4 linked regions of the Homo sapiens genome follow. The protein of the gene in region 4 interacts with the protein of the main gene of each other region in a biochemical or structural test. Each region holds a gene or a part of one and is shown on either strand. Other genes may lie near its edges.

What was found. The genes of interacting proteins can lie anywhere in the genome.
Region 1: the proteins of SIPA1L2 (region 4) and CRHR1 interact in a test that uses a peptide from one of them, tested with the Homo sapiens proteins (one large-scale study listed by IntAct).
Region 2: the proteins of SIPA1L2 (region 4) and RGS12 interact in a test that uses a peptide from one of them, tested with the Homo sapiens proteins (one large-scale study listed by IntAct).
Region 3: the proteins of SIPA1L2 (region 4) and TECPR2 interact in a test that uses a peptide from one of them, tested with the Homo sapiens proteins (one large-scale study listed by IntAct).

Annotation. Positions count from the first base shown.
Region 1 is NC_000017.11:45,815,320-45,818,819, forward strand, and holds part of CRHR1 (corticotropin-releasing factor receptor 1 isoform 2 precursor), read left to right. Parts: intron 1-1,143; coding exon 1,144-1,263; intron 1,264-3,500. Other genes in the region: LINC02210-CRHR1 (CRHR1-IT1-CRHR1 protein), read left to right, coding at 1,240-1,263.
Region 2 is NC_000004.12:3,436,021-3,438,216, forward strand, and holds part of RGS12 (regulator of G-protein signaling 12), read left to right. Parts: intron 1-2,196. UniProt on the Homo sapiens protein: Regulates G protein-coupled receptor signaling cascades. Inhibits signal transduction by increasing the GTPase activity of G protein alpha subunits, thereby driving them into their inactive GDP-bound form.
Region 3 is NC_000014.9:102,369,441-102,372,940, reverse strand, and holds part of TECPR2 (tectonin beta-propeller repeat-containing protein 2), read right to left. Parts: intron 3,198-3,500; exon of another isoform or gene 3,166-3,197; intron 2,525-3,165; exon of another isoform or gene 2,456-2,524; intron 1-2,455. UniProt on the Homo sapiens protein: Probably plays a role as positive regulator of autophagy.
Region 4 is NC_000001.11:232,397,465-232,400,299, forward strand, and holds the end of SIPA1L2 (signal-induced proliferation-associated 1-like protein 2), read right to left. Parts: intron 1,810-2,835; coding exon 1,663-1,809; 3' UTR 501-1,662; downstream 1-500.

The sequences.
Region 1 (3,500 bases), on a different chromosome or scaffold from region 4:
GCCAGGACTGTGCCAGCCCCCACCCTTTGGAGGCCATATCCACCCTCCCCTCCTGAAGTGTCACTGGGCCTCAACTCTGCCCCAACATCCTCTCTCTCTCGCGTGCTCTCTCTCTCTCCTCCAAAAAGCAAATATTTGGAAGGGGACTTTGACATCTTCTTTCTAGTTCAGATGTTTATATCTCTTTGAGTCACAGACCCCTTTGAGAATCTAATGAAAGCCGTGGGCCCATTTCCCCATTAAAATGCATGTATACACCAATATTTTCATTACATTCAGGGTCTCTGTGAACTGTTGAAGTTTCCAGTGGGCTGAGATTAAGAATTTCTGATCTGGTTCAACCACTTGATTTTATTATAGATGAAGACAAGACACTAAGGCCCAGAGAGGGCAAGTGACTTGCCTATGATCTCACAGCAAATTAGTGGCACAGCCCATTCTGAAGCAGTGGGCCCAGACTCCCAGTTCAGTGTGTCCTTTCCACTCCCCCAGATGGTGTCTCCCTCCCTTTCCTCTCCATAGCTCACTTCTCCATCAGTCCTGTCCTAGGGCCCTGCACAGAACAAAGTACACGTGACGTATGGTCAGTAAGTGTGGTTAACAGGCCAGCCGGAAGAAGGAACAGGCCAGCCGGAAGGAGGGCCAACTTCATTTAGCTGATTCTTCCCTGCAGGGCCAGGGTAGATGTGGTTTGATTGCAGAGACGTGAGGGGCTAGGTCAATGATTGGATGGGTCTGTTCCAGGGTGTTCCTGTGATGTCTCAGAGCTCCAGGCTGTCACCATGCGAGGGACCAAGAGAAGTGTCCTTAGGCTACAGAGCAGGGGACCAGAAGCATGCCCAGGCTTCCTCTAAATGCCAGGACCTTAGCTTTTAACACCACCTCCAGCCATCTCTCTTCCTCCTCTGCTCTGGAACCCATGCTGGCTCCCTAGTACCATAGCATCAGATTCAGATTTCTTCCCCTTGTGTCTTCTTTGCATAGGATGAGCTCATTTCTGCACTGGTCATTGTTGTCATCCTGTCCCTAGCTGGTGTGAGTGGGAACGAGTGGGGAGGTGGGCAGAACTCTGGAATGTCCTCTGCCTGCCTGGGGCCTTGGCCGGATATCTTGCTGTGCCTTACCAGCCGTCTCTGCCCCCAGGACTGCAGTGCAACGCATCCGTGGACCTCATTGGCACCTGCTGGCCCCGCAGCCCTGCGGGGCAGCTAGTGGTTCGGCCCTGCCCTGCCTTTTTCTATGGTGTCCGCTACAATACCACAAGTAAGGAAGAAGTGGAGGGTGGACCATCTGCTGGGAGGTGGGACAGGATGGGGAGAGCTTGGAGGTGGGGGAAGGAAGAATGACGATGACAATAACAGTAATACCTCTTGTGGGGATCGCCCCTGTTTTCCAAAGGTCAGCGCTGTATTCTCCTGGGTGCCCTGTGCTCATTACTCGTGATTCTCACAATACCCTTGCAAGACACTATCACGCCTCCTATAACTAAGGCCCCTGGGGCTCAGGGAGGTTAGGGAACTTGCCCCATTGGCAGCTGGTAAGGGGTGAAGCTGGAATTTGCATCCACGTCTGTCTGGCACTTTCTTCTGCCATTAAACTTCAGGTTAGTCTGTTTGAGCCTACTGTAATACCATGAAGCAGGGCAGGAATCATCAGAGCCCCAGCTGTGTGGATAAGAACCTTGAGTCGAGAGGTTCTGAGGCCTACCCCGGGCCCTCCAGCCAGGAGGCAGGGGACCCAGAGTTTCAGATGCACAGGCACAGGCTCAACTTGCATCCTGGATTTGTAGGTGGAGTGGGGCAGGACGGGGTTGACCCAGGGTCCGTCGGATACTTGATCCTCATGTAAACACCTGGCTCCCCGGAGGCCCGAAACCCCCAGAGCCGGGCTTTGCAGCTCCCTGCTATTCCGCCTGCCACTCTCAGAATTAATTTGCTCTCCCCTGTCAATGAGTCAGGTCCCTGCTTATCAAGAGAGCAACAGCTGTGGGCCAGGAGCCCTAACCTACCTGAGGGGAGGCTGGGGGCCTGATCCCTGCAATTGGGGCCTCCTGTGTGCACCCTTGGGTCCTTGTGGTCTTGAACTCAGAGTCCCAAGAGGGCACAGGGGTGAGCCCAGACACCATGTAGTTTACTCCAAGACTCACTGTGTGACCTCCCAGCACATTGTTGCCCCTCATCTGGCCCTCAGCCCCTCATCTGAGGATGGAGAGGGCTGGATGGCTTGGCTTCTAAGATGTCTTCCAGCTCAAAACTCCCAGATTCCTTCTCCTGCCCCTCTTTCCTCTACCAGATGGATTTGGGGTGTTAAGGTTGGGGGCTACAGCAGAGGAGTAGGAAGACCCAGCCAGAAAGTGACTCCCCAGGGAGTGACTTGGGAGGCCAGGGCAGGGCAGGAGGCTGGGGCAGCCAGATCTAGCAGCCTCGTGTGTCTGTACCATGTCCTGGCCATGGGAGGGACTCGGGAGAGGGAGAAGACACACTGGGAGGGGCTTGGGGGCCAAGGGGAGGAAGTGCAGAAAGGAAGAAGGGCCTCTTGGCCAGGTCAGTCCAAGGGGTGCACAGTTGGCCAGCCCCCAATATAGTCAGGCCCATTTTGTAATAAGGAAATTGAGGCACAGAGAGGCTAATAACCTATCGGAGGTCGCAGAGCCTGGAGGCAGGGTCACAGCCCAGGGACGATAACTCTCACGATGCTGGGGGCTGAGTCCTTCTGGAGCCCCTAGGAAGGAGGCAGCATCTGCACATCAGAGGAGCTTCCAGGAGGAGGCACCAGTTCCTGTCATGTCCACTTCCAGAGTGATCCTCGTGTCTGGGCCTACCTGCCCCCACTCCCCAGCGCCACCGCCCAGCCTCAGGTTTCAGATCTGAGTTGGTCACTCCTTCACTTGGAACCCACTCTTGTGTGGCCTCCGTGTTCAGGCTGCTGGGTGGGGCCGGCCAGGCTGTCTGTGGTCATGGCCCTGTCACCTTTTGCAGCCAGCCCTGGCCACCCCCCATGAGTTCCCTCTGCTCCCGTTGCAAAGGGTTACTTGACATGCTCCAGATAAACATTTTCAGCCCTCAGTGCCTGGGCACACACTTCACTTGCTGGCCCTGCCTGAAGTGGCAGTCAGGAGTCCTAAGTTCTCATTCCAGCTGCATCTGCAGCTGGTTAAGTAGCCCTTGGCACAGACCTTCTGTGGGCCTCAGTTTCTACACCTGCAGAATGGGTGGGAGGATTGAGTGTGGTGCTCTCTAGGCTCCCCCGCACTTCCCTCTGTGATCCCAGGAAAGGAGCTGGGGTGATGGCCTCTCGACATGGGGTCAGTCTGTGAGGGCAGGGCTGGAAGACCCCTTTCCAGGTGCCTCCAGCGCCAGATGAGGTGGAGCACGCCCGTGCAGTCAGTCACAAGTGGGTACCCAGAGCTGCACCTCATCATTAAGCACTAATTAATCCATTTACTGATGAGTTGCTGCCAGGACTTCTAGGCCTTCTCCCTAATGCCCTCCCTCCTGCTG
Region 2 (2,196 bases), on a different chromosome or scaffold from region 4:
ACTCCCTCGCCAATGCCCAGCAAATATTTGAGGAGCTCTATCCCAGCCCCAGCCCATCACACACAGTCATGATCCTGGCTGGGGACCCACACGGACAGGGGGACCTTGGGGGGGTCACACTCTGGAACTAAGGTTCTGGGGGTGCTCTCGTTCCCATGGGGGCCCATCAGCAGGAGTGCACAGGCCTTAGCAGGAGCCCGTGGGGTGCGCTGTGGTGGGAAGGCTGGGAAGGGAAGGGGCCTTGGGAGCCACAGTGGATTGTAGGGTCCCCGCCTCTGGCTCCCCTCGCTCCCCCCTTCCTGCCGTGTTCTCAGTGTGAGCCGGCTCAGCCTTGCCTGGGTGTCCTTGTGCCCTGCGAGCTTCCAAGGGGCGCTGGGGAGGCTTCACAGAGGAGGTGGCTGCGCTTGGCAGCACAGATGATGTGGAGCATGGAGGCAGAGGCTGAGCAAAGTGCCTGGGGGACGGGGTCCCTCGGGGGGCAGGAAGGGCGGGCAGTGGGAGAGGTGCCAGGCCTGGGTCTCGAAGGAGAGCCTGGGAGAGTTCAGGCCATGCCCCTGCCCCGGCCAGGCCAGTGCAGCCCCTGCTCCCGCTGTGCCTGCCAGGGTTCCTGACTCAGCTTTGAGGACCAGGGTGGGGCGGGGTCCTGCCCCAGGCCTAGGCCAGAGCAGCTGGCAGTGGCTGGCACAGAGACATTCATGGACAAGTGTCTGGGAGGCCTGGGGGCGACCGGCAGCCGGTGAGGGGCCTGCGCATGTGGAAAGAGGGGCCTTCCTGCTGCATCTTGTGGGGCCTCCAGCAGGACCCCCTCCTGGGAAGGCTGGACAGCACAGTCGGAGCCGGCAGGACCAGCCAGCCGAGGGCAGGGAGCCGTGGGGCGCCGGGGAGAGGTTCACAGGTGGCCCAAGCGGCAGGGAACAAGATCCCAGTGTGGCCTCAGGTCTGGATGTTTGGAGATGTGGCACCAGGAGTGAGACCAGGAGGCCAGGCCCCTCTGGAGGTGGTGCAGGCTCTGCTGGGTCCTCTGTGTTGCCATCCCTGCCAGGGAAATGCTGGGCAAGAAGGTGCTCCCCGGGCAGGCCCTGGCATGTAGGTGGTGAGGCAGCGTGCTGCTCAGGGCGGGGCCAGGCAGCTGAGTCACAGGCCTGGGGCTGGCTGCCCTGCACAGGAGGGCGAGGCTGGCTCCCGTAGGCAGGAAGGGCCTGGCTGTGGCCCCCTCCTTGTGATGTGGACATCCTTGGTCCATACAGAGCTGTCCTGTCTCCAGAAACAAGTGTTTCTCCATCCTGAGCACACTAGCTTCCTGGGGCCCTCAGGGGCCTGTCCTCCCATCTGTCCATGTGGGGCTGGCGGGGTAGAGCCGGGCTTCTGGACATGTGTGGTGTTGCAGGCCCCTTCAGAGCCCTATGAACACTCCAGGCAAATGCCCAAATGCCCACGGTATTGACCGGCGAGAGGGGGCAAACCCCTGCCTCTCCCCACACGATATCTCCCAGCCCTGCAGCCTGGCATCTGGAGCCATGCGGACCTGGTGACAAGAAGGAGATGGGCAGAACTGTCCCCTTGTCCCCTGGGGGCAGGGCTAGCTCCTAGCCCTGGCAGAACCTAGTAGGACACTTGTTGAATGAGCAGAGGCCTGACTGGGAGAAGTTTCTAGTCTCAGCTGCTCCACATGGACCCCTGGGCCTCCAGATGGCATCTCCACCGGGCCTGGCTGAGTAAGACACACAGGCCCCACACAGCTCCCACATGCTGGCTGGGCTGCTGCGTCGAGGCCAGGATGAGGGCCTCTGGGGCCACTGCTGGGACCTGTTCAAGAGAACGGGCTGGGCACGCTCAAGAGGGGAGTCACACCTTCCGCCCGCAGCCCGGACTTGTTCACAGATGCCTCATGGAGGCTGCTTCCGGAAGCTTGGACTGAGGGTGAGGAGGGGCACGCTGGGATTGGGGACCTTGGTGGCCACGGAGCCGCTGGGGCAGCAAGGACCCTGCGGCCATTTCAGGGACCTCAGAACTGTAGATCGAGGAGGGTCTTCACCTTCCCAGGCCTTCGATTCACCTGTGGAGGGCAGCAGTTGGTAGCAGGGACCCCCTGTCCCTGGTTCTCATGTGCCGGGGGCTGGCTCTTCCTGCCTCCTGTCTGCTGTGGGCCCAGGCCTGGGGCTCCTGCCACCCCATAGGCGCCTCAAGGCCTCCACC
Region 3 (3,500 bases), on a different chromosome or scaffold from region 4:
CACTATCAAAAAGTTGCTTTTTTTTTTGAGACTTGCTCCGTCGCCCATGCTGGAGTGCAGTGGCATGATCTTGGCTCACTGCAACCTCCGCCTCCTGGGTTCAAGTGATTCTTGTGCCTCAGCCTCCCGAGTAGCTGGGATTACAGGTGCCTGCCACCAGGCCTGGCTAATTTTTGTATTTTTAATAGAGATGGGGTTTCACCATGTTGATCATGCTGGTCTTGAACTCCTGATCTCAGGTGATCCACCCACCTTGGCCTCCCAAAGTGCTAGGATTACAGGCTTGAGCTACCACGCCCAGACTTGCTGGGATTACAGGTATGAACCACCATGCCCGGCCTCAAAAATTTGTTAATATAGAAAAGCACAAAGAAGGCTGGGCGCGGTGTCTCACACCTGTAAACCCCAGCACTTCAGGAGACTGAGTCAGGGCGGATCACCTGAGGTTGGGAGTTCAAAACCAGCCTGACCAACATGGAAAAACCCCATCTCTACTAAAAATACAAAATTACCTGGGCGTGGTGGCGCATGCCTGTAATCCCAGCCACTTGGGAGGCTGAGGCAGGAGAATCGCTTGAACCCAGAAGGCAGAGGTTGTGGTGAGCCAAGATTGTGCCATTGCACTCCAGCCTGGGCAACAAGAGTGAAACTCAATCTCAAAAAAAAAAAAGAAAAGAAAAGTACAAAGGCAGCTGGGTGCAGTAGGTCACACCTGTAATCCTAGCACTTTGGGAGGCCAAGGTGGGTAGATCACTTGAGGCCAGAAATTTGAGACCAGCCTGGGAAACATGGCAAGATCCTGACTCTGCAAAAAATACAAAAATTAGCCAGGTGTGGTGGTACACAGAGAATCGCTTGAGCCCAGGAGATCAAGGCTGCAGTGAGCTGATTATACCACTGTACTCCAGCCTGGGTGACAGAGTGAGACCCTATCTCAAAATAAAAGGACAAAGAAGTAAAGAAAAGTCACAATCTCATCATACTGAGATATGCCATGTACACAGATAGCTACAGATATATGTATATAAACATATATGCACACACACAGACTTTTTCACTTAATAAATCATGAGTATTTTCCATGTCATTAAATATTCCCCTAGAATGTGATTTTTAGTGACTATACAGAAAAACTGCAGAGAACACACTGTATGGATAAACCAAAATTTTCTCAACCAAAAGATTTTAATTTTGCCATCAAAAACAACAGAAATATATCCAAGTATATTCTTGGAGTACACTGCAAGAGGTGGAAATGTTGAATTAAAAAAAAATGTATTGCCAAACTGCCTTGAAGAATGTTCATATCAATTTATGCCTCACACGTTTTTCCAAAGGATATCTAGAGGCCCGTAAGCCATAGCACCCAGATGAGTCAGGACAGCCATGCCTGGGGGCCAGGTGCCCAAGAAGTCCCCAGCGGGCAGAAGAGAATCCATGCTATTTCCCTATCTGGGGGCCTCTGGATGAGCTTAGCACCAGGCTTGTCTGTCCTTCACCCACCATTCAGATAGGAGGAGCAGGTTGAGGCCAACTCCCAGCAAAACTGTCCTCCTGGCAGAAACAGTGTCTAGGACGGGCTGAGGAAAAGGCATAGAGCCGCTGTCTCACTGTCCTGCGCTAGGTTTGGGAAAAACAATGCAGACACAGCAAACATTTCTGCTAAGACTTTCTGCTCCTCCTCCTTACCCAATGTTCACCCAACTCCATGTTCCACCTCACCCAACCCCCAGGTCTCAGACCCACAGCCACAGAACTGACCCTCTTTCCACCGAGGAAGAACTGCACAATGAGTGGCTAATGATACTGAAGTGAAAAAGACCCAAGTTCAAATCCCAATGCTCCTAAAACTACCTGAGGCACCCTGGAATAACTGCTCAACCTCTCTAGATCTCCAATTACCATCTGAAATGGGATTAGTAAAACTTACATCCTAGCTATAAACACAGAGTAAATGAACAATGTCAAAGACACTTACCTATCTTGTATCTTCTACCAGTTGCCTGGGCCATGCTGACCAAGCCAGAAAAGGAGCATCATCCCTGATCCCTCCTCCTCTCCTCTCCATGTCCCCGATTCTCCATTCAGTACATCTCCCACACACCTCAGTGTGTCACCCCTAGCTCGGGCCACCATTACCTCTCACCTGCAGCTCTCTCTGGTGCCCAGCTCATCTGCCCGCCTCTCCCTCCCCGTCATCCACGTGGCAAACAGAGGGATTTTCCTGATGTGCAAAGCTGATGTCATCACTCCCTTGCTTAACACTCTGCAGTGGTCCCCATCTTCCTCCTGCTAAAGCCCAAGTGTTGCTGGCTTACAAGAACCTTGGTGATCTGGCCTCTGCCACCCGAGGATCTCTCACTTGTCCTCCAGCCACACTGAATTGCTTCTAATTACAACAGGCCTGGCCTCTCACGTCCTGGCCTTCACACCTTCTACTCCCTATCTCTGGCAGGCACTTTCGTATCTGCTTTAGCTCATGAGATCTCCTAGCAAGCAAGCGGAAGTACTGAGCTCTTCACCAGTAAGTATTGCCTAATGTTATTTCCTCCTTTAAAAATCTTATTACCGGCCGGGTGTGGTGGTTCACGCGTGTAATCCCAGCACTTTGGGAGCCTGAGGTGGGTGGATCACCTGAGGTCAGGAGTTTGAGACCAGCATGACCAACTTGGTGAAACCTCATCTCTATTAAAACACAAAAATTAGCTGGGCATGGTGGGAGGTGCCCGTAATCTCAGCTACTCAGGAGGCTGAGGCAGGAGAATCGCTTGAACCCAGGAGGCAGAGGTTCCAGTGAACCAAGATTGTGCCATTGCACTCCAGCCTGGGCAACAAGAGCGAAACTCTGTCTCAAAAAAAAAAAAGTTATTCCTCAGCCAGGCACAGTGGCTCACATCTGTAATCCCAGTACTTTGGGAGGTTGAGGTGGGCAGATCACTTGAGCCCAAGGGTTTGTTTGTTTGCTTGTTTGTTTATTTATTTTTTTGAGACAGAGTCTCACTCTGTCGCCCAGGCTGGAGTACAGTGATGCGATCTCGGCTCACTGCAAGCTCCGCCTCCCGGGTTCATGCCATTCTGCCTCAGCCTCCTGAGTAGCTGGGACTACAGGCACCTGCCACCACGCCTGGCTAATTTTTTGTTTTTTTGTTTTTTTGTTTTTTTTAGTAGAGACGGGGTTTCACCGTGTTAGCCAGGATGGTCTCAATCTCCTGATCTTGTGATCCACCCGCCTCGGCCTCCCAAAGTGCTGGGATTACAGGCGTGAGCCACTGCACTTGGCCGAGCCCAGGGGTTTGACATCAGCCTGGGCAACATGACAAAACTCTGTCTCTACAAAAAATACAAAAAAGTAGCCAGGTGTGGTGGTGCGTGCCTGTAGTACCATCTACTCAGGAGGCTGAGGCACAAGAATCAATTGAGCCCGGAGGATCGACTGAACCTGGAGGATCCATTGAGCCCGGGAGTTCGAGGCTGCAGTGAGCCATGATCAAGCCACTGCA
Region 4 (2,835 bases):
CCCGAGTAGCTGGGATTACAGGCATGTGCCACCATGCCCGGCTAATTTTGTACTTTTAGTAGAGACAGGGTTTCTCCATGTTGGTCAGGCTGGTCTTGAACTCCTAACCTCAGGTGATCCACCCGCCTTGGCCTCTCAAAGTGCTGGCAACACCAAAGTGTTATTTTATTTTATTTTTTTAAAGGCAGTCTTGCGTAAATTACTTCACTTGACCCACAGTTCATGTGGTTGTAAATGGGAACCCCACCTCCTACCTATGAAGGATAGATACCATTGGGGTTAAATGAGATGGATGAAAAGTTCAGAGAATAGTGTCCGCCACACAGCAGCTATTAAAAACTGCTAGGTACTCCTTCCTGAAATCGATCTGGGATTCTATGAGAAAGGAGCTGAACAGTATTTAATACAAATCAAGGTTCTAAATGACCTGAAATAAATTCACATACAGTCAGACTGTTGACATGTTAGATCACAAAAAATCTAGTCACCTGACAACACCATTTCTTATGTGGACTTCTTTTAAACATTTATTAAAAAAGCAAAATGTATGTTCATCTCAAATCTAACAGTTAAAAATGGTAAAGCAATACAAACAATGTGTTACTAGCAGCATCCAGTCGTTAGAATCTCTCACCCTGCTTCTCGGTCTGATCTGTGCAAGCTCAGTCTCTTCTGAGCCTGCAGCTACCTCCATCCCTCATCGTAGTGCAGGCCAAACCAAATTTTATAAAATTAACAATTTAAGGTTAAATAAGCTTAAATAAGGGTGTTAAATACAAGACACTTCATCAAAGCTTCTGTACAAAGATAAACAAATCTGGCATTGTACAAGTGGTTCCGCTGGCTCACAGCACACAGGGAAGTTCTAGTGAGTAAGCAGATTCACTCTCATTTCTTTCCAGCAGAGCAACTATACAAAAGTGAACTAAGAGTTGAAGTGACTACTGACCACTCGGTGAGCCATTTACAAGGCATATGTATCTTTTTTTTGTTTTTAATCAGAACACTGTTAATATTCAGGCACCATTTGTTCCTGCAAATAAATAAGTCTCTAAGGTAACTGCATCTGAACTAGTGTTAAACACAACAGTGCTTTTTTTTTTTTTTAATCCCCCCACAAAGCTTTTCCAACTATGTACTATGCCTCCTTTCTTATTGCTATGGTAATGTGGCTGTGGAAATAAAACTACTGTACATCCAAAAAAATAGAGCACCTTTAACATTAAAGTATATGTCTGATTATTTGTTCTCATGTTTATTTTACAATACTAAAGCCCAAACTATGGTAAATTGCTTTACATCTCTACCAGGTCACCTGATATACAGGAAATAAAACTCAACTATCTTCCCTCTTGAGGTAAGCCCAAGCCAGAGCACTGTTTTAGCAGAGTCTAAAAGAAAAAGGTCTCAACTGTCGCCAGGGTTTACATTCATCTTCACACCAGGAGTTACATTCATTCATCTTCACATCGGCGCTGCTCTCTGCCGTGGTTACCGAGAAAGAGTCGAGGCTCCCTATCCTGCTGTGGTGAATGGTGCTACACAGAATGGAACAGCAAAAACATCTACGATTGGTTGAAAGCACACAGAAAAACCACATGTTTGTGACTTCAAAGGGACAAGGGGCATTTCCCAGTGGTCCCTTGATGAGGTGCGGATTGGCTAAGATTTTTTGTCGATGGTGGTGAAAAACCATTCTGTGAATTTCCGCAGCTGAGCTGTCGCGGTCTGGGACTCCTCCTGCAGTCTCATGTTGTCCTGTCTCAGGTGCTGCACTTCTGCTTGGAGAACGGCCTTGTCTTGTTTTTCCTGGTCAGAGCAGAAATAAACTGAGTCATGGAGACTGATCGATACATTCATTCCTCCTAAGCTGGGCTACGAGAATCTTTGATTCTTATTTTTACTTATGTACTTTTTGAGGGGAGAAGGGGTGACTTTCTTTAGTGAGGGGACTTTTCTGATCCTGATTCCTGCTGATGACAAAGGGATGGGAATGAACACTCCACACACCCTGTTCTTTCATCCCACTCTGCTCCCATGGGGTGCTAAGATAGCCTTTATATAGGAAGGGTGTTCATCATAGTTTATATTACCCTCTATCCAAAAAAGGGAGACTACAGGGAGGTTAAAGGTAATACCCTTTTGACAAATGCACAAAACTTTCTAAGTAGAAAATTGGAATTAGCAGAGCTGTTACATATGTTTATAATAAAATATGTACTTAGGTCTTTCATTCCATCAAGCTTTCCTGCTATACTATATTTCCATAATGACCCTTAAAATCTGCTATTAAAAACTGTGTAAAAATAATCAAGACTTTCAGAAGAATCACATCTGGAGTTTCCAACATGTAGCAATAAAAAAATGTATAGCAGCAGTTTCAGTTCCCCCCCTGCTGAAAGGGATGCCTTGCCCTAAATGAATAGAGGGGTCACTGTCAGATTGTAATAATCGGTATTTCTGTAACGGGATCTAACTCAACCACTACAGCCACCACATGCCACCCCCAGCACTGTGCAGGAGCATTGAGTGAGGTGAGTGGACGCCCCCACCCTTGGCATATCTGGTCCTGCCCTCAAGGCTTCCTCGTTTCCTGAGCCCTTCCAAGGCCCTCCTCAATACCACCTGCCTGGTCACTGGCCCAAAAGACACTGGTCCTCAGAGGAGGCCTGAATCAGAGCTGACCACTCACTTTGCTGTAAGGAGCAACTGCAGCCCACCCTGGATAGACTCACTTCACTCTAAGAAGCAGCTGCAGCCCACCCTGGATACTGACTCTCCCCGGACATTCCTCACCACGACTCTCAGTCCCAAGACAGTCTGAGTCCCACAGCT